Regions from separate parts of the Homo sapiens genome. Here region 1 is linked to region 2. A link means that fine-mapping ties the variant in region 2 to the expression of a gene that starts in the linked region. Tissue or cell type: lung. Region 2 holds a variant in brackets; the other region holds the start of a gene. All regions are shown on one strand. Distances are between the middles of the regions.

Evidence for each region. PIP is the estimated chance that this variant, and not a neighbour inherited with it, causes the effect.
Region 1: ADCY8 starts here. The variant in region 2 is fine-mapped to the expression of ADCY8 in lung (GTEx, PIP above 0.99).

The regions. Positions count from the first base shown.
Region 1 is chr8:131,035,606-131,046,257 of GRCh38, forward strand. ADCY8 (adenylate cyclase 8) reads right to left here and starts at 5,304. Exons shown (of 18, transcript NM_001115.3): 1 at 3,769-5,304. The coding sequence starts at 4,728. LOC105375760 (a long non-coding RNA gene) reads left to right here and starts at 3,925. Exons shown (of 6, transcript XR_928653.3): 1 at 3,925-4,005. RefSeq lists enhancers at 4,504-5,043, 5,044-5,582.
Region 2 is chr8:131,185,274-131,195,925 of GRCh38, forward strand. The region is part of intron 3 of LOC105375760 (a long non-coding RNA gene); the gene reads left to right. Among named protein-coding and RNA genes, the nearest start is that of IADEN, 120 kb to the right of the region's middle. The variant A/G (reference allele first, on the strand shown) is at 4,430.

The DNA of each region.
Region 1 (10,652 bases), 150 kb before region 2:
CCCTGTCAAGTCACAGATGTCATTTCCTTCAGGGTAGAAAGAGGGAAAGCAGATTCTCATAGCTTAGATTAAAGGAAGGCAATCATTGGCTCATTTGTTCCTTTCAAAAATGACATTTTCAGTGAAGTGAAACAGCTGCCAAGGTGTGCTAACTCTATACTCCCATTTTCGTTTCCTAAATCCTGAAAATGCTAAGTTAAACATTAGCTATCCTCCTAAAGAGAATGAAGATTAATGTGGAGAAAGATGCTATTCCAGTGTTTATGGCTTTTAGTTGACAGATTTGTATCTAGCTAAGCAGAATGATGAGCTAGCTACAATGAGCCTATGCCCAGCAATTCACTCATTTTTCTCTCATAATTTCCCTTTGGCTTCTTCGTTAAATGTTTATTTAACTCTCTTAAGTAGTAAAAGAAGTACTCCTCAGTCTTTAATAGTTTCAAATGCTTACATGTTTAGAAGGATAATCACTAAAGGGTTTCTGAAGAATAATTGGCATCAGAGTCAGGGTTTGAATTCTGTCCTCCACTTGCCAGGTTCCTGATCCTCAGGGTATCACTGTAAAGTTTCTAGGATTCTGTCATTTTTTTCTCTGAAATGAAAATGAAGGATGATACCATCTATTTTTCATCATTAGATATGATGATGCACATAAGGGTGCTTAGTTACATGTAAAATACTGTGCAAAGTAAAGGATTATTATTGTTTTTGATTTCTTTAGAAGATGTTTACGTGTAAGACTGCGTTACACACATATGATGTGTATGTGTGTGTGTGTATAGAAAGCTTTCACCAACACAACATCAGGGCACTTGGATATTTTATAATATTTCCTATATGATGAATTGTCTTCTTCATTCAGTGACTGTTTGTTGAGTACCTGCTATATGTCTGGCATTTTTCTACAGGCCGAGGATAAAATGCTATTTATGATAGACAACATCCTTGCCCTTATGGTGTTTACATTCTTGTGAGGGTGTGGGGAGAAACATAGTAGATATAAACAAATAAGATAATTTCAGATAGCAGATGTGCTCTGGAGAAAATGAAACAAGTCGTTTACTAGAGAAAGTAGCATTTGAGAGTCTGGAACAATGAGAATGTGCCAGTCTTATAAAGACTTGGGAAAAGTTGCTCTAGGTAGCAGGTGAAAAGACCCAGAATTAGGAAGAGCTTGGAATATGGCAAAAATGAATAGCATATTTGGAGCCTAATGAAGAGAATACAAGAGAAGAGAAGAGAGGGAAATATGGTTGGAGAGAGAAGAAGCAACTAGCTCAGAGAATCAAGCATGCTGTGGTAAGAAGTTAGGATTTTACTCGAGTTGCTATAAGAAGTGTTTAGCAGGTTTTGAGCATTCCTTATGTGTTACCAGACATGGAAAACTAAATAGTACCTATTCAAAAATCACAGATTCTTATAAAAAGCGATTTATTCTCTACTTCGTCCATCTGCGCGATCTAGGAAAGACTCTTAAGCCAATAGAGGGCGCCAAAGGACCTTTAAAAGCCCTTTCAGCACTGAAGTGAGGGGAGAGCGCTCTGGTTGTTCTTTTAGAGTTTTGGTAAAAGGTGACTCAACCTATGAAATCGTAGTTTATCTGTAATTCTTACCCAAACAAAAAATTGAATGAGCTTAGTTTACATGCATCAGGACCTTGGATTTCACAGTGGAGAATTGTTTATGATGAGATGAGGGTGGGAAGACATTTGGGGGTTATTTTTAATCTTCTCCCATCTGGTAGTATTTGAGTAGAATATAAAACAAATATGGAGCCAAAATTTACTTTCTGGATTCACTTGGCAAGAAAAATATATCTATACTTAGAACTTTGAAAACACTCATAATTTGCCACTTAGGATGTGTTATTCTAAATACTATTCCAAACTTACTTATTAAGTTTTCTAGTTGTGTGTACTGAGAAAGGCTATTGCGTGAAAAGTAGTGGGTTATAATACATGGAATTTCTTATACATGATCAGATAGCTATGCTTTATCGTGAAAACAACTCATAGTGAGTTAGATGAAAAAAAGAGAAGGCAAAGAGAAGGAAAAAGAAGGAGGAAGGGGAGGAAGACAGGGAAGAAAAGATCTGCTAATGTCTATGTATACAACAAAGAAAAATAAAAAAGAGAATGAGAGAGCTTGGAAGAAAGTAGATTTAGATGTACTGGCATGTAGATCTTCATGTAAACAGGATTGAGAAATAGTTAATACCAAAGAATTTGACTTCCACTTCCCAGATTGAGACTTATTTGTTATATGTAGATATGAAGGTTCATGGTGACTGTGATAAAACACTCATTATTGTCTTTAATAAGAAAAAGTTCAGTCAATCAACCCTTACTCAGAGTCTCTCATCTCTCCATTTCATGCTTGATAATCACAGGCATGTAATTTATAAACTCTTTGCTTTACCCAGAGAGACTTCAGAAAGCACTGTAAAAGCAGCCAACCAGATAAGTCACCTGAGCAAAGGAATATAGAACCATTGGAGAAGAGACAGGATCCCACATTGACCAGAAGTCCAGGAGGCCAGTGATGGGTGAAGCACTCTAACAGTGCTGGCAATCTAAACATCATGAACAATTTTCAGTGGGGTCGTGCCTGTTTATTCTAAGCATCATCTATTCAAATTCGACCATAAGGAAGAGGAGTTTTAAGCTTCTAATACAGCAAAAATGATACAGAGGCTAACGACAGAGCAGGCCCATACAAAGCAGCCCCCTGACCATGCATCTCACACCAGCCATCTGTTTGAAAACACTTCACTTGACATGTTTCCCTCATTTTTGAGAAACCCCCAAAGTCACTCTCCTGTTACCTACCATACATTTTGCAAAGACAGTGCCATGCCATTAATTAGCTATTGGTTCTAGTAAATTTAAACAATAGAAACATTGTCTACTTTCTCATCCATAGACAATGTGAACTTTGTTCACATAAGCATATCCATATTTAAGGGGAAGAATAGAAAAAAAAGGAGGAGAAAGGAGGGAAAGATACCTAAAGAACAAGATTCCACCTAAATATAATATTTAAAGCATCTACATCAAAATGCCCTTTTCCAATTAATCAAAACTTGCATTCTTTGCCACCCCCAATTACTGAGGTTGGTTTATTCAAAGCACTGGGGTCGCATCGTGTCATGAGAGAAGATATCATGTTTGGTCACCAAGGCAATAAAAAATTCCCGAGAAAACCATGTGTCATAGGATTGTTTGAAGGATTGGATGACATAACACGTACAGTACTCAGCACTGACAATCAGTATGTGTTTAACAAATGTATGTTCCTTTGAGAACTGAGGGTTTGTGGCTTAGAGATACGGAAAAACCCAACTCTGAAGCCCAGAGCCTGCTACAACACCCTGCTGCGACTCTCCTGAGGAGAGATGTTAAGGAATGGGTCACCTTCTAAATCTGGATGCTTCTCCTCCCCTTCTGTCTCCTGCTCCGGAGACTGCAGACCCTGAGGGAGGGGAATGAGGAGCAGAAAGCAGACTTTCTTAGCTGATGTCAGAGTAGAATTACTCATAGAATCAGAGTAGAAGGGTAGAGTTGGTAGAAACTTTTAGAGGTCATTTAGTTCCACTTTAAGAAGAGATTGCATTCCGCTAACACTCAAGACCTCCTAGGTACAAGGCACTGTGCCAGACTGAAGGCGGAGACTTAAAGAGAGTGAGGCAACCCTGGCTCTCTGGAAGCTATATGATCAATAACCCGGGGAAGTTAGAGGGGAAACAAATGCAAGGCAGGCAGGAGTTACCTGGTTGATGGAAATGACCGCCAGCCGGGGTATGACCACTTGGAGGATGACCTGCAGCAGCGAGGTGCCCAGGCCGGCCAGGATGGCCCAGGTGAGCGGCAGCGGCAGCATACTGTAGGTGGCGAAGAGCGTGAAGAGCACGTAGCCTATGCCGTCGCCCAGGAGCCCGTAGCCGAGGCCTGCTGCCAGGATCTGGGTGGTCATGGCCACCCAGGTGACCACGCCGCTGTACTGCAGGTACGTGTGGGAGGTGGTGTCCTTCCTGACCACCACCAGGGCGCAGATCACTACCTCAATGCCGGTGAAGAAGCCCAGCAGGATGCCCTTGAGCGGGTCCATGGGGGCCGAGGCCAGGCTCAAGTGTAGGACCAAGAGAGTGAGTTTGGTCAGCACGTCCAGCACGTTCATCACCACTTCCGATTTGCGCCTTTGGCCCAAGAAATAGCGCTGGTAGAGGCGTTCCAAATCCCGAGATTTGAAGGAGTTGCGCAGGGTGGGGAAAATGACCCCTCGGTAGCTATAGCCCCCATTAAGAAAGAAATCCGAGTTGCTAGGGGCACAGTCAAGGTGCAGGAAGCCCAGGTCGCCCCCGCCTCCGCTGCCGCTGGCACTGCCGCTCCCGCTGCGTTCCGGGAAGACTTTGGTGCCGCAGGTGCTGTGCGCTCGCTCTCCCGGGCCCAGCGAGTAGAGGGGCAGCGCCGAGTCGCCTGACAGCTGCGGCGCGTGGTGGTTGGGGCCGCCGCCCGCAGGGTCCGAGGCTTTGCCCGAGCCTCCACTCCCGCTGCCGCTGCCTCCCCGGTGCCCGTGAATGAAGCGCTGCTCCGTGATGTGTCGCACCGCCGTCTGCCACAGCAGCCGCTGCGGCCGGGAGGCGCTCCTGCCGTCGCCGGCCGGGGGCGTCGGGTGGATGGTGTAGAGTTCCTCGCTGCCTGTAAGGCAGCGCACATCGGAGAGCTCCATGGCTCTGGGCCGCAGGGAAGGAGGCCCAGAACCTTGGGGAGGCAGCCGGAGGAGGGGTTCCTAAAGACTCAAAGGCGGCCTGGTAGGAGCTTGGCAAGGATCCTTTTTATCCTAGGCTGCCCCGTTGCAGGAGCCCTGCGCTAGGGCTCCCTGTAGGTCGGGTCATACTGTGCCCAGGGGCAAAGGGCACCTGGAAGATCGCGGCGGACCTCGGCGTCCTTGCGTGCTGCTCTCCCGCCAGCCGGCGCAGCTTGGGTACGCAGCGGCAGTGGCTATTTGTCCTCAGGAGCCGCAGCGCTGTGAGCCACGCAGCCCCTTCCTGGGCTCAGGCTCCTTGGTTGATTCTAGGCTCAGCGTTTTGGCGCAGCCTTTGCTCTCCAAGAGACGCCTAAGCGCCTGGGCGCCGTGCTTCTGCTGCGCGTCGGGCGGGTCCTGGCTGCTGCACTGGGCTTTGGACGCCCACTGCTCCGCGGCTGCAGGGGGCCTGGCCGGCGGTGACCGGCGGCAGCGATGGGTGCGAAGTTAGCAGATGTGGCTGGAATCATCGCCCTTCGGAGAACTCCATTGCGCCGGGATGGGGAGCAGGGGCGGAGCTGGGGGCGGGGGCAAAGAAGGAGGAGGAGGGGGTCACGGTGAGGTGGCGGGGCGCCCCGCGACAGGGTTGGAGAGGTGGTAGCCTCGGCGCTAACAATTCACCAAATAGTTAATTTGGAGGAAGGGGTATGCTGAGGCTCCCTCCTAGGCTCTTTCCTAGTTCGGGAGCAAGGACTGACAGCGCAGCGCTGGCTCTGGCCAGAAGCATCCCTCCCGGAGGGGGTGTGGGGACTCTCGCTCCAGGGTCCCAGCCTGAGCTATAAGACGAGGTCAACGCTTTCAGCTGTGCTTTCGAAGGGTCGCAGCACACAGTTCTCATCCCCTTTATTTCGTTCTTTGGAGTCCATTTGGCTCGGAGCTAGGAGGATCAGGAGAGGCGGGGGAAGGAAAAAGTGGTGAGGGCTCCAAAGCCAAGAGCTCCGAGAACGAAGAGAAGCCGCCGGTGCGGATATCTGAGGCTGAGAACCGAAGCTTGGCGGATGAGGCGAAGGTTTGGAGGAGAAGGGAGGCCCGAGGCCGCGTGGAAGTCGACAGAGACGCCTCTGGATCTAGGGAAGCGCCGCCGCGTGCCACCCTGGAGCTCTGAAACGCACCGCGGGCGCCAGGCGACTGGGAGAAATTTGGAGACCTGTCAGAGTGGTCAGACACCCGCGGTGACTTAAACCCGCCCCCGCGCCAAGCCACGCCCCCGGAACCGGGCCGGGGGTGGCGGAGGGACCTGCCATCCAGATCTGGCCAGGACGCCCCAGGTCTTGTAGGCAGAGGCACGCGCGGGCCGGCGTGGGAGAGGACCACTGAGGGCTAGGGCCGGCGGGCGCCCCCGGCCTTCCCTGGGCGCACTGCGATCCAGCGTTCCAGCTGGCCGCGCCAGCCGGTTCCTCCGCTGTTCTTTTTTAGGCATTGGCTCTTGTCCTCTGCAGGTGCGGAGCCAGGACTCGTAGGCCGCTTTGCGCACGGACTCGGAGAGCCCAGCGCGACGGAATACAGGGTTTCCTTTTCGCCCTTCCTACCCGTGCGTCTTTTGGCAAAGCCAACTTTCGGGCTAAACGCAAAATCCCCCAAGAGGCCGCAATCATAGAGGCAGTCAGTTTCCTACAGGAGCCTCTTTACTACCTCGATCCGAAGGGGGTGGAGGGTACGGGACATCAAAATGGGGACGTCCCCTGCCTGCCTCGCACACTAAGTTTCTCCGCTTACAATAGGGTCGAGGAGGCGGACGTGGAGAAAGGCATGTCCAGGGGCCCCGCCTCGCCCTAGCCCAGGTTTCCCGCCCGCCCAGACTCAGCCGAGCGCTAGCGGACAAAGCCTGCGGCGGAGCTTGCGGCGGACCAAGTCGCTGAGCGGTGGGAGCTTAGTGCCGGTGCTAATGACAGATGAGCCGCGTCCCGGGGTGCAGGGTCTGCAGGGCAAACGCGGCCGCCGCAGTCCCGCAGCCGGATGCAGGTGGAGGAGCGGTGGTGGTCACCACCTCCTCCACCAAGACTGCGGCTGCAGCCAGTGGAGCCCGGGCCCAGAGCACAGTCAGCTGATGGCCAATGACGTCAGGCCCTGGGCGCGTTCGCGGCTCCCCGTGGCGTCCCATGAAAGCCCAAATGACCGCCTTGCCTTGCCGCCCCCTCAGTCCCTCCTGAGCAAGAAGAGAAGCTCCCTTCCCTCCTGCCTGTCCTAAGGAAAAATAATTTCGATACCCCCACCCCCAACCACATACACTGTCTCCAGGGTTATTTCTGTCGGCCGTGTCCCAGAAACGCGGGGTTTAATTCTTTGCTTTTTAATTCCTGTTTTTCTCCCCACGCATTTCGGCTTCGGGTTAAACCCAAAACGGGCCACCTGCCTTGCACACAGAATTCCAGAAGGAAGAGAAAAGAATCCTCTAATATTCCCCCCAATCCCTAACCAGTAGATTTCTAGAATTTCGTTCACTCCCTGGAAAAGACTTCTTTAATTTCAATCCTTTTAAGTTGTATTCTACCATCCCCCAAGAAAGCCAAAATGAAACGCTCAACTTTAAATAGATAGACGGCTGATTCTATTTTTAACTCTGCTTGTAGATGAATTAATCTGTTAACATTAAAGATCTCCCAGAATAGTTGGCCTATCCCATGGGCCTGGAAGTTAAGGGTAAAAGTACCTCAAACAACTCTGTGTTACAGTTATCTAGCCCTTAATGAAATAACCCCTGCAATTACATTCCTGTCAAAGAAATGCTTCTTGCTTCTTCCTTCCTGAATTTCTTGGACTCATCAGCCTCACCCTACTGGAACTCGGGTGGGTAATGAGTCTCTTAACTTGAGATGGGAACCCAGACGGAGCACAGCTGGGAAGGCTGTCCTATAGACCCTATGCCAGAATGTGTGGGTAGCTGTGTCCTCTCTCTGCGGGCATTGCCCGAAGGCATCTGTGCTAATGACCATATTAGCAAACTTGGCAATGGAAGGCATCACTTTATTTTCTCACTTCTTTCTCCTTGGGGCCCTAAGGACTCAGCCTGAATAAATGAGGGGCTGGATGCAGTTGGAACTTTCCTATGAAAATCTTTCTCCAACCTGGACAGCTCCCAGGATGATTTATTCAGCAGCAAAAGGAGGCGGGCCAAGGAGGGGGAGATTGGACCCAATCAGATAAAATGACTCAGGCTGATGAATGAACACAGCATGCTACAGAAAGAAACTCAATTTCATGAACTCAGAGGTTGAAGCTAATGCATCAGGGAGAACACATCACATCTGTTCAACTGACTGAACGCTTCATGGCTGGAAGGGTGTTACCGTAGATTGTTTTAAAATAAGAACATGGATGACACAATTAGATTCCGATGTTCTTCTTGTTGGGATGACATAGTGCCATTCAGCCCAAGAAGCATTCTGTTTTTGAATGAAAGCATTGGTTCAACACAAATATTTAGAAGCTTTTTGGAATATGCAAACCACCAAATGATTAAGAGCCACTTAAAACAAGAGAAGTCGGCTGGGGGCGGTGGCTCACGCCTGTAATCCCAGCACTTCGGGAGGCCGAGGCCGGCGGATCACGAGGTCAAGAGAATGAGACCATCCTGGCCAACATGGTGAAACCCCCTATCTCCTAAAAATACAAAAACTAGCTAGGTGTGGTGGCGCATGCCTGTAATCCCAGCTACTCGGGAGGCTGAGGTAAGAGAATCACCTCAACTCGGGAGGCAGAGGTTGCAGTGAACCGAGATCACGCCATTGCACTCCAGCGTGGGCGACAAGAGTGAAACTCCGTCAAAGAAAGAAAGAAGAAGAAAGAAAGAAAGAAAGAGAGTGAAAGGGAAAAAATCAAGAGAAGTCCACACATTCTTTTGAAGCTATGATAGATCTTTCATAATGCTTTCATTTATCCTCTGCATATTTATTAAGGCAGGGTCTCTACTGTGATCTGAGGACAGCGTTTTAACAATTCAGTGTCTTTTTGCACACAACTTCCTCCTCTTCCCCTGTATTCCTCCCTGAATATACTTGCTTACCTCATCCTTCAAAGTTTGAGCAATGTTGTCTCTGCATGAGAACTTTCCTGATATCCCCATTGAGAACTAATGACTTCCTTCTCTGTTTAATAGTCTGTTATGGGTACTTTTGGTATGGTCCCTTATACAGGGACTAGCCATTGGCGTATGTATCTGTCACTCCTCCCCATGAAACAGTGAGCTCCCTGAAGCGAAAAACTGATTTTCCTTGGGCCCATATCCCCCAACTTCTAGCAACTATAATTTACATAGAGATAATAAGATAATAATAATGTTAGCCACGATTTAGCACCTACTAGGTGTCAGCTCTTTCTTAAGATTTTTTACAAATGTCCCATTTAATCATTCTAGTAATTATGTGAATTAGGTCCTTCTCTATTTTATTATTTCCATCTTACTGACTAGGATACTGAGTACCGAGGCTTCATGTGGCTAAGTACCTTGCCCAGGATCTCGTGGTTAAATCCAATGCTTAAAGTTGTATTGCAGGAATCTGACATCCACATGCTCAATAAAAATGCTGTCATAAGCAGTCAGTAACTGATAGAAATAAAAATGTCACTTTTTTGAGTTTTCAAAGGCAAAGTAAATAAGAAACTTCTGAGACATTTAGACTTTGAGAAATCTGTTAGGATGAGCCTGAATCGCAGATGAAGGTAGTAGAACTCTTTATTGTTTGAATGGAGGGCCTACTAATTCTGTTTCTGTTCAAAACTTAGACACTATTTCTATAATTTATAGAAAAAAACCAGACTTTCACAATTGAGTTTAACGAAAATACTTAACTTGGTGTAATTTATTTCATTTAGGTAGTTGTGGTGGTGGGGGAAATATCCTATTGTTTCACTGGAAAATAACTTATTTGTTTAGTGATGTTGCTACATACCATTGGCCACATTTACAGTAGATATGTTTAAGAAAAGGAAATTTGTTTTCTCCCTTGATGTACCTTTGACTTCCTAGGTTGATTATATTAATATATGAATTTAAATTTTTTAAGAGCCATAACCTTTGCTAAGTACGCATAGAAACTCTGACACTTACTGAAGACATATAAAATATTCACATGTAAAAGAAAAGATGGACTCAGTTCAGGAAGGGGACATGAAACCAGAGAGATCCTGTTTCCAAAGGGAAGGAGGGTGTTTGTGACAAAGCAGCTTCCAAAGTAGAAAATCCTTAAAGGAATATTACATGCCTGCCTTGCCTGGAAGAATTACTCTTAGGAAATATCAAAAGTATCAGCTGCTTTGACAGCACTCCAGGAAATGTCAATGTCTTAGATACATAGGGATCATCTTTGAAAAGTTCTATGAATTAAAAACTTTGCACTCACATTTCATCTGGAATGCAGTACAATACACAATAGAATACAGAAGATGTCTATGTTACTTTTATCTTATATTTTCTCTGCCTTGAAAAATACAGGAAAAAATGTTTGTAGACATTTTGGATCTTCACAGGAACTAGTTTAAATTAGATTCTGGTGCCTGGAAGGAGAAGAGTGTCTCATCAGTGGGAAAACAATTCTGAGACAAGAAAGGCATAGCTCATCCATCAGGCAGTCAGAAGAAGAAAACTGCAAGGGAGATAGACTTAAATATTTTCTTCTTAAAAGATGATTCTCTTGATGCTGGTTTAACTAGAGGATGAGCTAACTATGACATCAGTAATTAAGACTTTACTTACTGAAGTCCTAAAATAAAAAGAACACATACACACACACACACACACACACACTCACACACACCATGAGAGAAATGATTAGTAACATAAGGTAATGAAAAGCAGTAATGAAAGCAAAGAAAAAGTGGGTTTCCAGCTAGTGCAGTCGTGTCACTAAATC
Region 2 (10,652 bases):
TTGCTTCTGCTTTTGCCAAGTGATGTGCCTGCTCTCCCTTCACATTCTGCCATAATTGGAAGCTTCCTGAGGCCCCTCCAGAAGCAGATACCACTATGCTTTCTGTAAAGCCTGCAGAACCATGAGCCAATAAAACCTCTTTTCTTATATGTTACCCATCTCAGATATTTTTATATAATTAAAAGAATAGCCTAATAAAGAAAATTGGTACTAAGGATGGGGCATTGCAATAAAGATACCTGAGCAGAGATTGGAAGAATTGGAGGGCTCATAAGAAGATAGGAAGTTGAGGGAAAGTTTGCAGTTTCTTAGAGATTGGAAAAATAGTTTTGACCAAAGTGCTGATAGTGATGTAGACAGTCCAGGCTGCTGAGGTCTCCGAAGGAAATGAGGAAATGACTAGGAACTGAAGCAAAAGTCATGAATGTTATGCCTTGGCAGAGAACTTGACTGCATACTATTCATACTGTAGGGATCTCTGGAAGTTTGAATTTGACAGTGATAATTCACTATCTGCTGGAAGAAATTTCTAAGAAGCAAAATGTTTAAGATGTGGCCTGGCTGCTTCTAAGGGCCTCTGCTCAGATTCAGGAGCAAAGGAATGACTTAAAGCTGAAACTTAGGGAAGCATAACATAAAATTTTGGAAAATATGCAACCCGGCCATTTGGTAGAAAAGAAATGCCAATTTTCAGGAGAAGAATTCAAGCAAGACATGGAGCAACCACTTGCTAGAGATGTTTGCATAACTAAAAGGGATCCGAGTGCTGATAGCCAAGACAATGCAAAAAAGGCCTTGAAGGCATTTCAGAGACCTTTGCAGCAGCCCCTCTCATCACAAACTCTCAGGCCTAGGAGGAGAGGATGGTTTCAGAAGAGAAATAGTTTCAGACCCATTGCCCTGTGCAGCTTTGGGATACTGCTCCCCTTATCTTGGCTGTTCCTTCTCCATCCTCAGCTCAAAGTATCCCCAGATACTGCTCATGCCACTCCTCTGGAGAGATTAAGCTGCCCTAAGCCTTGACAACTTCCATGTGGTGTTAAGTCTGCAACCCGCAGAGTGCAAGAGTGAACGCTTGGTAGCCTCACCTAGATTTCAGAAGTTATATGAAAAAGCGTGGGTGCCTAGGCAGAAACCTGCTGCAGATGCAGAGGCACCACAGAGAACCTGTATTAGTGCAGTACCTAGGGGAAATATGGGGTTGGAGCCTTCACACAGAATTCGCACTGGGGCACTGCTTTGTGGACCTGTGAGGAGAAGGCTGCTATCCTCCAGACTCAAGATTGGTAGATTTACTGGCAGCTTGCACCCTGCATCTCAAAAGCTACAAGCATTCACTCCCAATTTGTAACAGCAGCCCTCTGAATCCTGCAAAGACACAGAGGCAGAGCTGCCCAAAGCCTTGGAAGCCCACCCCTTGCACCAGTGTGCCCTGGATGTAGGACATGGAATTAAAGTTTATTTTGGAACTTTAAGATTTAACAACTTCCCTGCTGAATTTTGAACATGCGTGGGGCCTGTAGCCCTTTTCTTTTGGCCAATTTCTCCCTTTTAGAACAGAAATATTTACCCAATGCCTATGTCCTCATTATGTCTTAGAAGTAACTAACCTGGTTTTGGTTTTACAGGCTCATAGGTGGAAGAGACTTGATAGGCTCTTCCTAGAGACTTTTACAGGCTCATAGATATGAAGAGACTTACTGTGAGAATTGGCTCACAGAATTATGGAGGCCAAAAAGTCCCATGATCTGTTGTCTGCAAGCTTTATAACTAGGGAAGCCAGCACTGTAATTCAGTTTGATGTAACTCCCAGTCTTAGTGAGGCCTTGGGTGGTGAGGTTGGGGGAGGAGGGACAACTGATGTAAGTCCTGGAGTTGAAAGTCCCAAAAACCAGGGCTCTGATTCCCAAGAGCAGGAGAAGATGGATTTACTAGATCAAGAAGAGAGAGAGTAAATTCACTCTTGCTTTTCATTTTTGCTTTATCAGGGCCCTCGTGGATATATGACATCTACCCACATCTGTGAGGGTGGATCTTCTGTACTCAGTCTTTTGATTCGAATGTTGATTTCTTCCAGAACACCCTCATGGATTCACCCAGAAATAATGGTTTGCCAGCTCTCTAAGCATCTCTTAACCCAGTCAAGTTGACACATAAAATCTGTAAAGTGGAACTCACCATCTGTAAAATGAAACTCAGTGTTCTTTTGTGAGGTCGTAGGATGTGTTAATACCTTCTCCATTTCTCTTATACCTCCAGCTCTACCATTTACTTATATTGACTTTGGGTAAGTCATTTTGCATTTTAGAATTTCTTGATTTTAGCCCTTTATCTGTGTTTTGACTCGGCTCATGTCATCTGTAAAATAAAAGGATCATATCTATTTTAAGCCTCCTAATTATTTGATGTTCCACTAGATAAGAGGTATGAAAATGCTTTGAAATGGAAAACAAGCACAAAGCTATGTTGAGGAAACTTTCTTATCATTTCTGCTATTATTGATTTTTCCATGTGATTTTCACAAACGTTCTAAAAGGTACCTGAGGATACACTGCTATTTATTAAATTATAGAACTCAATTACTGTCAGAACCATTGAGATTTGCATACTAGGTTTCTTTGGAACTCTCATAAAGAATGTGGACCTAAGTGTTGTGGTGTAAACATAGGAGAAACCCTGCCTTATTTTAATGCATGATTGCTATTTTCAGGCATTCTACTAAAAATTTGTCATCTCATTTAAAATTCACTGTAACTCTATGAGGTTTGATGGTATTATTGTACTAAATTTTCCTGTAAATTGAGGTTTTGAAATGTTAAGCAATTAGCCAAAGATCAGTTAGTTAGTAAACTTGTCATTGAGTCAGAAACAAACAGGGCAGACTCCCAAGCCCGACTTTGTAACTAGTACTTTCTGATTTCGTTTTTCTCAATTCACACAAATAAATCTTAGTAAAATTTCATTTACAAATTTTTCTTTTTCTTTCATTTAAAATGTTCTCATATATTTGATACTTTCTACCCTTTGTCTATATCAGGGCAATGTGTGGCAAGTTTAGTGAGAAACGAGTCTTATTCTTCAATATGAGGGAACTTCTTAACAGATTTGTCATTCTGGACACTGCAACAAAATTTACAACAAGTGTACATTATATCCATTGCACATATCTGTCTACAATGCCTGGAGGGTTTCTTCAACCTCAGATTTTATAAAGACTAAAATAAGGATTTGTCATCCACATTCTGAGATGAAGGCTCAATATATCTTTCTATTTTGTTCATGTATGCAAATACATATTCCAAATTTGCTAAAGTTCTATGGGAGGATCTGATGTAAGCTTAGAGTTACTCCTCCTTAAAGAACTAGCTGAAACCCCAAGGCAGAGCATTGGTCTCTCAGGAAAGCCACCTTAACTTCCTCCAGGTGCAGCTGAATCAGCTCTATGTCTTTCATTCTCTCTCTGCTCTTGCTGGTCTATTCTTGAATGACACTTCCTCAAGGATATACTTAACCTTCATCTTCACTTGTGCACTTGGGCAAGGCTCATCTTTAGTTGGCTTTGTCATGGGAATGTCACTCTTTCCAGTAACTCAGCAAGTGTCTGACTCATCAATTGCAGGTTAACAGGGAAACAGCTTCCTGTTCTCTAGGTAAAATTCTTGCGGGACCTGTCCCTCTGTAACCTTAGCACCTACCTGCATTCTATCTACTGCTTTTTCTGTTATAGAGTGTTTGAGGAGAGGGACTGTAATTTGGAGCAGGTAGAATAACTCACTATTTGGGTGTAAAGTCTTTCACTGTGAAGAAAGAACATATTTAATACAATTTGACAACTTTATTGAAGGCTCAGTATTAGCAAGTCTGAAACTTCCCAAAGTGCAGAGCTTATATTCAAAACAATTTTAGAAGAAGGACAGAATTTTTTTGATGAGTATGTGTTTAATGTGTTTTAAAATAATTCTCTCTAGCTTTCTACTTTAAAATATAACTGGTATCTCCATAAGCACTGATAATTGTGATTTTACAACTATCAGTGCTTATGACCAGGTAAATGCCATCTCAAGACACCAAAGTAGATTGTCAGAACCATCAAGATAGCCAGTTAGCTGAAGGATCTAGAAAGCATAGTGAAGTAGGCTTATGAATGAGTGCACTTTGAGAAATGCTGACCTAGATTAAACGATATCAAGACACACTCCATAGGACATTGTCAGTCCCCCTACTGTTGTTCCCCATAGCTGTTTGTGTGGCTCTCCTATTTACTTATTTCGTGTTTGCTCACATTGTCTGTATCCAAATCTAGAGTCTACCAATTTTCTTGCTGTGTGACTCAGGAACAATTACTTACTGCTTGGAGTCTAGGTCCCTTCATCAATTATATGAAGAACTTAGAATAACACCTACCTCTCAGGGTACTTATAAGGCTTAA[A/G]TGAGACTATATATGTATTTAGCCTAGTACCTGGCCTGAAGAAAGGGCTTAATAGGTGGTAAAAGTATCTTTAAGGGATAAAATACATATGACGTTATTTCAAGCTTAATAATCCAAAATTTTCAGGGAATTCTAAAAACTGAAACTGACTTGCAACTGTTCTGCTAACTAAACTGTGGGTCAATTGAGGCTGACAGAAGTTGAGATGTTTGTGGTCACTGATATATCCAGAGCCTGGGATCTATCCCTCCTCTTCTGACTGTGTGGAAGGGCTCTTTCTGTGTCCTAGTGCTCCTCAGAATCAAACATTTCCCTAGTCTTCTTACTGAAAATATGATTCCTATTCAATTAATCAAATGCTGTATGTACCAACACAGAGACTCTTTAAGAAAATCTGATGTAACAATCCCAAGAATCACAACCGACTTAGTGAAAGGTAGAGTCCTGGGGTTTACCAAATCCTTGTCCTCCACACCTCAGTGGTACATTGCATAAATGCATTTCAGAAAAGAGACTAGGGACATTTCCTTCTCTCCTCCCAAGGTAATGCAAAAAATAAAAGAATCCTTTATAAGTGTCACAATGGTGCTTTTTTATCAAGGGCAACAGATGTATAATACATTACATTATTTATTGTTTCCTTTCTCTGACCTGAGGTAAAGAGTTCTGTTGTCTTATCCTCAGATGGAATAAGAGTGAAAGTGTTTGTTTCTTTACATATAATCAGATTAGTTGTTGTCATTACACTGTTTCCAAGTTGTTTCTTACTGTGTCTCTCTCTCTTTCATAATGGGAAAATATGTTCTATGCAAAATTGGAGACATGCTTCTGCTTTTTCAGATGTTAGGGGTACCATCTGCACAAGGTCCCAAAGTTTGTGAAAGAGAAGGTAGGTGACACCTATCAAAACTTGATGCAATAAACAGTCTAGATGATGGGGAACACAGGGTTGGGCATTTTTGAGGCGGATGAAAGCGGGCTTCTTATTATCCAGAGAAGTTATGCCACCTATAGGCTAAGTCATATGTAACAGACATAACAAATGGTCATAGAGATAACACACACAGTGCAGACCTCTTTTCTCACTCTATTTTCCTGCACACAATGCAGCCCTCTTTTCTTTCCTATCAGGAAAATAAAGAACGAGTTGTCCAAGTTCACTTACTTAGTACTTAGGCAAGTTCATCCAGTGTTGTTAAAGTAACATCTGACCACTGCTTTCTAATAGCATACCAAACTTGGACAATTAACTAAAAGTTTCTAAACCTCTGTTTTTCTCATCTTTAAAATAAGACAATAGTGACTAAAGATTTGTTGTGTGCGGTTATCATGAGCTGCTATATATCGTGCAACGCTTGTCATGGATTAGATGCCTAAAAAAGTTGAACCATTACTTTACTCTTAGCAGTCATTTGCTATTGTGGACATTCAGATTGTTTTCATTCATTTGTTAATGCTTTTATTAGAAAACTGTGAGGCAAATACTCTGTGCCAGGTCCTATGCAGGGCTAACTATGGAATGGGACTGAAAGTCTGGGAGGACAGATGACATCAACAATACTATTCAAGTTACATAAAAGAGGCAAATTATCTTAGGATGGGACAGTGTTATAGGAGGGTTTTTGCTTTTTGTTTTGCCTTCTTTCAGTTTTATTTTTAAAGTATGATATAAAATTAACTTTTAAATAATAGAAAGAATATATAAATATTTCAACCAAAGCACTGGAGCACTAATATGGAAAAAACATAATTTTGTTGACTTCTGTAGGTTTAACTTGTGTTTAGTATTTGTGACAGGGACCAAGAGTTGTGCCCTTTCTCCATTCATTTCTTCTTCCATTGTAAGAGAATTATTATCTGGGTACATGGCATCCCAGAATTGCAACTGTGTTATCTAAACTCTCCTGCAGCTTTGTGAGACCATATAACTAAGCTCTGGGCAATGAGACATAAGAACAGAAGTTTTCAAATTTATAAAGTTCAATTTATAATTTATAAAATTTATCAGCCATAGTTTTCAAGGTAAGATATTTTTCTCTTATGTTTTCCCCCAGCAATTTTATAGATTTAGGTTTTACATTGAGGTTTATGATCCATCTTGAGTTATTTTTCATGGATGGTGCAAAATTTGGTTCGAAGTGAATTTTTTTTGCATATGGGTACCATTTACTAGTTCTTTGGGTACCATTTACTAAGAAAGCTATCTTTCCTCTACTGAATTGCGTCCACATCTTTGTTGAAAATCAGTTGTGCATATATGTATGCGTTTATTTTTGTATTTTCTATTTTTTTCTATTGATAAGTGTGTCCGTCTTGATGTTATCACTATTCTCTCGCAATTACTGTAGCTCTGAATTATTGAAATCAGGTAGTATTTGTCCTCCAAGTTTTGTTCTTTTCAAGGATGCCTAAGCTTTACTAAGTCCTTTGCATTATTATATGGTGTTTAGAATCAGTTTGTCAATTAAAAAAAAAGCTTTCTGGAATTTTGATTGAAATTCTATTAGATTTGTGGGTTAATTATGAACATTTGATGTCTTAGCTACCGAGTCTGCCGACACATGAACACAGCGTATCTATCTCTTCATTTAAGACTTCTTTAATTTCTCTCGGTGATGTTTTATAGTTTCCAGTGCACAAGTTTTACACTTCTTTTTTAGACTTATTTCAAAGTATGTCAAATTGTTACAGAATTGTAAAGTTCTCCTTCGTTTTCCACCATGATTATAAGTTTTCTGAGGCCTCCCAGTCATGTAGAACTGTGAGTCAACTAAATCTCTACTGTTTGTGAATCACCCAGTCTCAGGTGGTATCTTTATAGCAGGGTGAAAACAGACTAATACACTTCATTTTCATCTAATGTATTGTTTCTGTTCTAGGTTCTCAGCCAGTATATCTCATTATATGTACATATTATATCTTTTTAGGCCCCTCTTGGCTGTGACAGTTTCTAAGACTTTTTTTAATTTTTGATAAAACTGGCAGTTTTGAGGCATAGTGGTCTGGTATTTTGTAAAGCATCATTCTATTGCAATCCGTGGTAAAGTTATTCTTTTTTTTACTTTATGAATACTGTACTTTTTGAAAGGGATTCCCTACGGTTAGCCCACATTAATGAATGGGAATGCTCCACTTCCTTAAGGTGAAATATCTATGTAAATTATTTATAAGTCTTCTGCATGTGAGATGTATCTCTTGTAATTTATTTATTTATTTATTATTTAGTTATATCACTATGGACTCATGGATATTTATTTTATTCTTTTGTTTATAATCTGATACTACTTTGTATTACATATACTATATCATATTATATATACCATGTATTTATTTATTGCTCTGATTATTACATTTTTGGCCACTAAGAGCACTTTCAGTTAGTGTCTCTTTGTCATATCCCATCAGTGTACTGTGTGTTGTTTTATTTTCAAGTGACTTCTTTCTTTCTAGTACCACAAGATATTTCAAATCTCATATATTTCCTGCCCCAGTTCTAGAATCAGCCATTTCTCCAAGAAGACTGAATTCCTTTCATTTGAGAATGGTATTAGAATCTGAATTGTGCATGCTAGGTATGGTTACTGCTGCTGGGTATTATTATTTCTAGGTCCTCTCAGGTGACAGAGAAAGAAAATAACCATATATGGTTATATTCTAATTTGCACATATATGCATATCTATATTCCTATATGTAATAATCTATATTTATTAAATTAAATATGAGCTAATACTGATGTCTCCAATTCTAATGCATTACCATATGGGCCATTCTGGCCTCCTCTCCTTGCTTATCTGTAAACTTATACTGTAACACTGAGAAACCAGTTTTTGCCATTCATTTACTTAATTGTTCAATTCTGGTATAAATGTATAAAGCACCAGAATTTTTAGCCCATGACCCTGTGGGAAACAAATTCACAAACTGGAGTGCAGTGCAAAGCAATTGCTTTCTAAATTTAAATTTCTGATTGCTTATTCATAATATACAAAGTTACGATTATTTATATATTGCTTTTATTCTTCGGCCTTGTTAAACTCACTTATTAATTTTAGAAGATGATTTTATAGACACCAGTAAATGTTTTACATATGTTATCATGTTCTCTGGGAATAAAGACAGCTTTACTTCTTTCTTTGGAATCTGTATACCTGTAATTTCTTTTCATGTATTTTTACAATGACTAGAACATCCAGTAAAATGTTGAACAGAAGGGGTTAGCATGAGCATCTTTGCCTTTCTCCTCATCGCTGGAAAAAATGTTCAATTTTTACATCTTTATCTATGATGTTTTAGGAAGTTTGTTTTCCCTTTATTTGCTGAATGTTTTTTTTTTTTTAAATGAGGAATAGATGTTGTATTTTCTCAAATAGTTTTTATGTAACTATGGAGATGATCATACAGCTCTTTCTTTATTCTGTTGAGATACTGACATATACTTGTTAGTCTTTTACTGTTAAACCAACCTTGCATTCTTAGAATAAGCTACTGGGTCATATAACTTTTGTATGTCTTTGCTAAAATTTTGTTATTAATAACTCCATTGACATTCATAAGAGTTATTAATCTGGGCTTTTATTTATTTATAGTGTCCTTGTCTGATTTTGGTTATGGGGAAACCAAATAGAATTAGTTGTGAAGTATTTCCTCCTCTTCAATTATTTTGGAAAAATTTATATTGAATAGGTTTTAAATATAAAGTTAAATTTATTAATGACCATTTGGGCTACAATGTGAGCTTTGGTAGTTTGTGTATTTAAAATAGCTGTCAATTTCACCTACGTTATGGGATTTTTGACATAATGTTTTAATATTCTCTTATTAACTTTTAAAAATATCTGTAATCTGTATCCATTTTAAACCTTTTACTCCTGATGTTGGGAATTTGTTTCCACTTTTTCAGCTGGATAAATATGGCTAGATGTTTATCAGGTTTCATGATTTTGATCAAAAAATTGACTTCTGGTTTTATTAATTTTATCTATTTTTGTATTCTATTTCATTGATTTTCACTCTGATCTTTATTATTTCTTTATTCTGCTTACTTTGCTTTGAATTTGGCCTTATTTGTCTAGATTTTCAAGATGTAATCTGAGGTCATTGATTTGAGACCATTCTTTTTATCATATGAAAGCATTTAGTGGTATAAATTTTTCTCTATGCATTGTCAGCACCCGACAAATTCTGATATGTTTGCCATTACTTTTATGCAGTTCACAATGATATCTGACTTCTATTTTGATTATTTCATTGAGTCATCCTTAGAAACATGTTATTTACTTTCCAAATATGTTGAATTTGAGGATTTTCCAGATACCATTCTGTAACTGAGTTAGTACCATGGTGCCAATTAACATACTTTGTATGATATCAAAGTGTTATTTATTGAGATTCATTTTATAGGACAGGGCATAGTAATGTTGGTAAGTTCCATGTGCACATGAAAAGATTGTGAATTCTGCTATTGTTGGGCAGAGTTTTCTAAATTGTCAATCAAGTCATGTTGGTTGATAGTGTTTTGCAAGTCTTCTAAAATCTTAGTGATTTTCTATCTACTTGCTTTATTAATTACTGAGAATGGAGTACTGTAATATTCATCTGTAAGTGTGGATTTGCCCATCTCTTCTTTCAATTCTTCATGTTTTTGAAACCCATATTTTGCTAAGTGGCTAAAAGCTTAAGATTGTTAGGTTCTCTTGATGAAGTTATCCCTTTATCATTATAAAATGAGCTTCTTTATTATTATGAAATGATAATATTCTGTGCTTTGAAATCTACATTGTCTTTTATTGATATAGCTACTTCGGACTTTTGATTAGTGTTTGCATGATAAATCTTTTTTCATTCATTTTTGACCTATGAGTGTGTTCATTTTTGCCTGTGTTTGTTGTGGGCAGCACGTAGTTGGTCCTTATGACATTTTAATCTAGTTTATCAATCTCTGATTTTAATTAGGGTATTTATGTTATTTATACTTAATATAATGATTGATGTTTTGGTTAAAATTGAGCATCTTTCTTTTTGTTTTATATTTGTCCTGTCTGATCTTTCCCCACATTTTCTTCTTTTTCCCTGCATTTATTTGGTTACTTAAATTTTTTTAGGATCACAGGTTGTCTCCTCCATGTTTCCAGATGTTTAACTTTGTGTATTCTTCAATAATATCCTGCTTATATGGTTTTAATTCTTCCTGTGATAACTGCATGCTAGATTGACTGTGAGCAG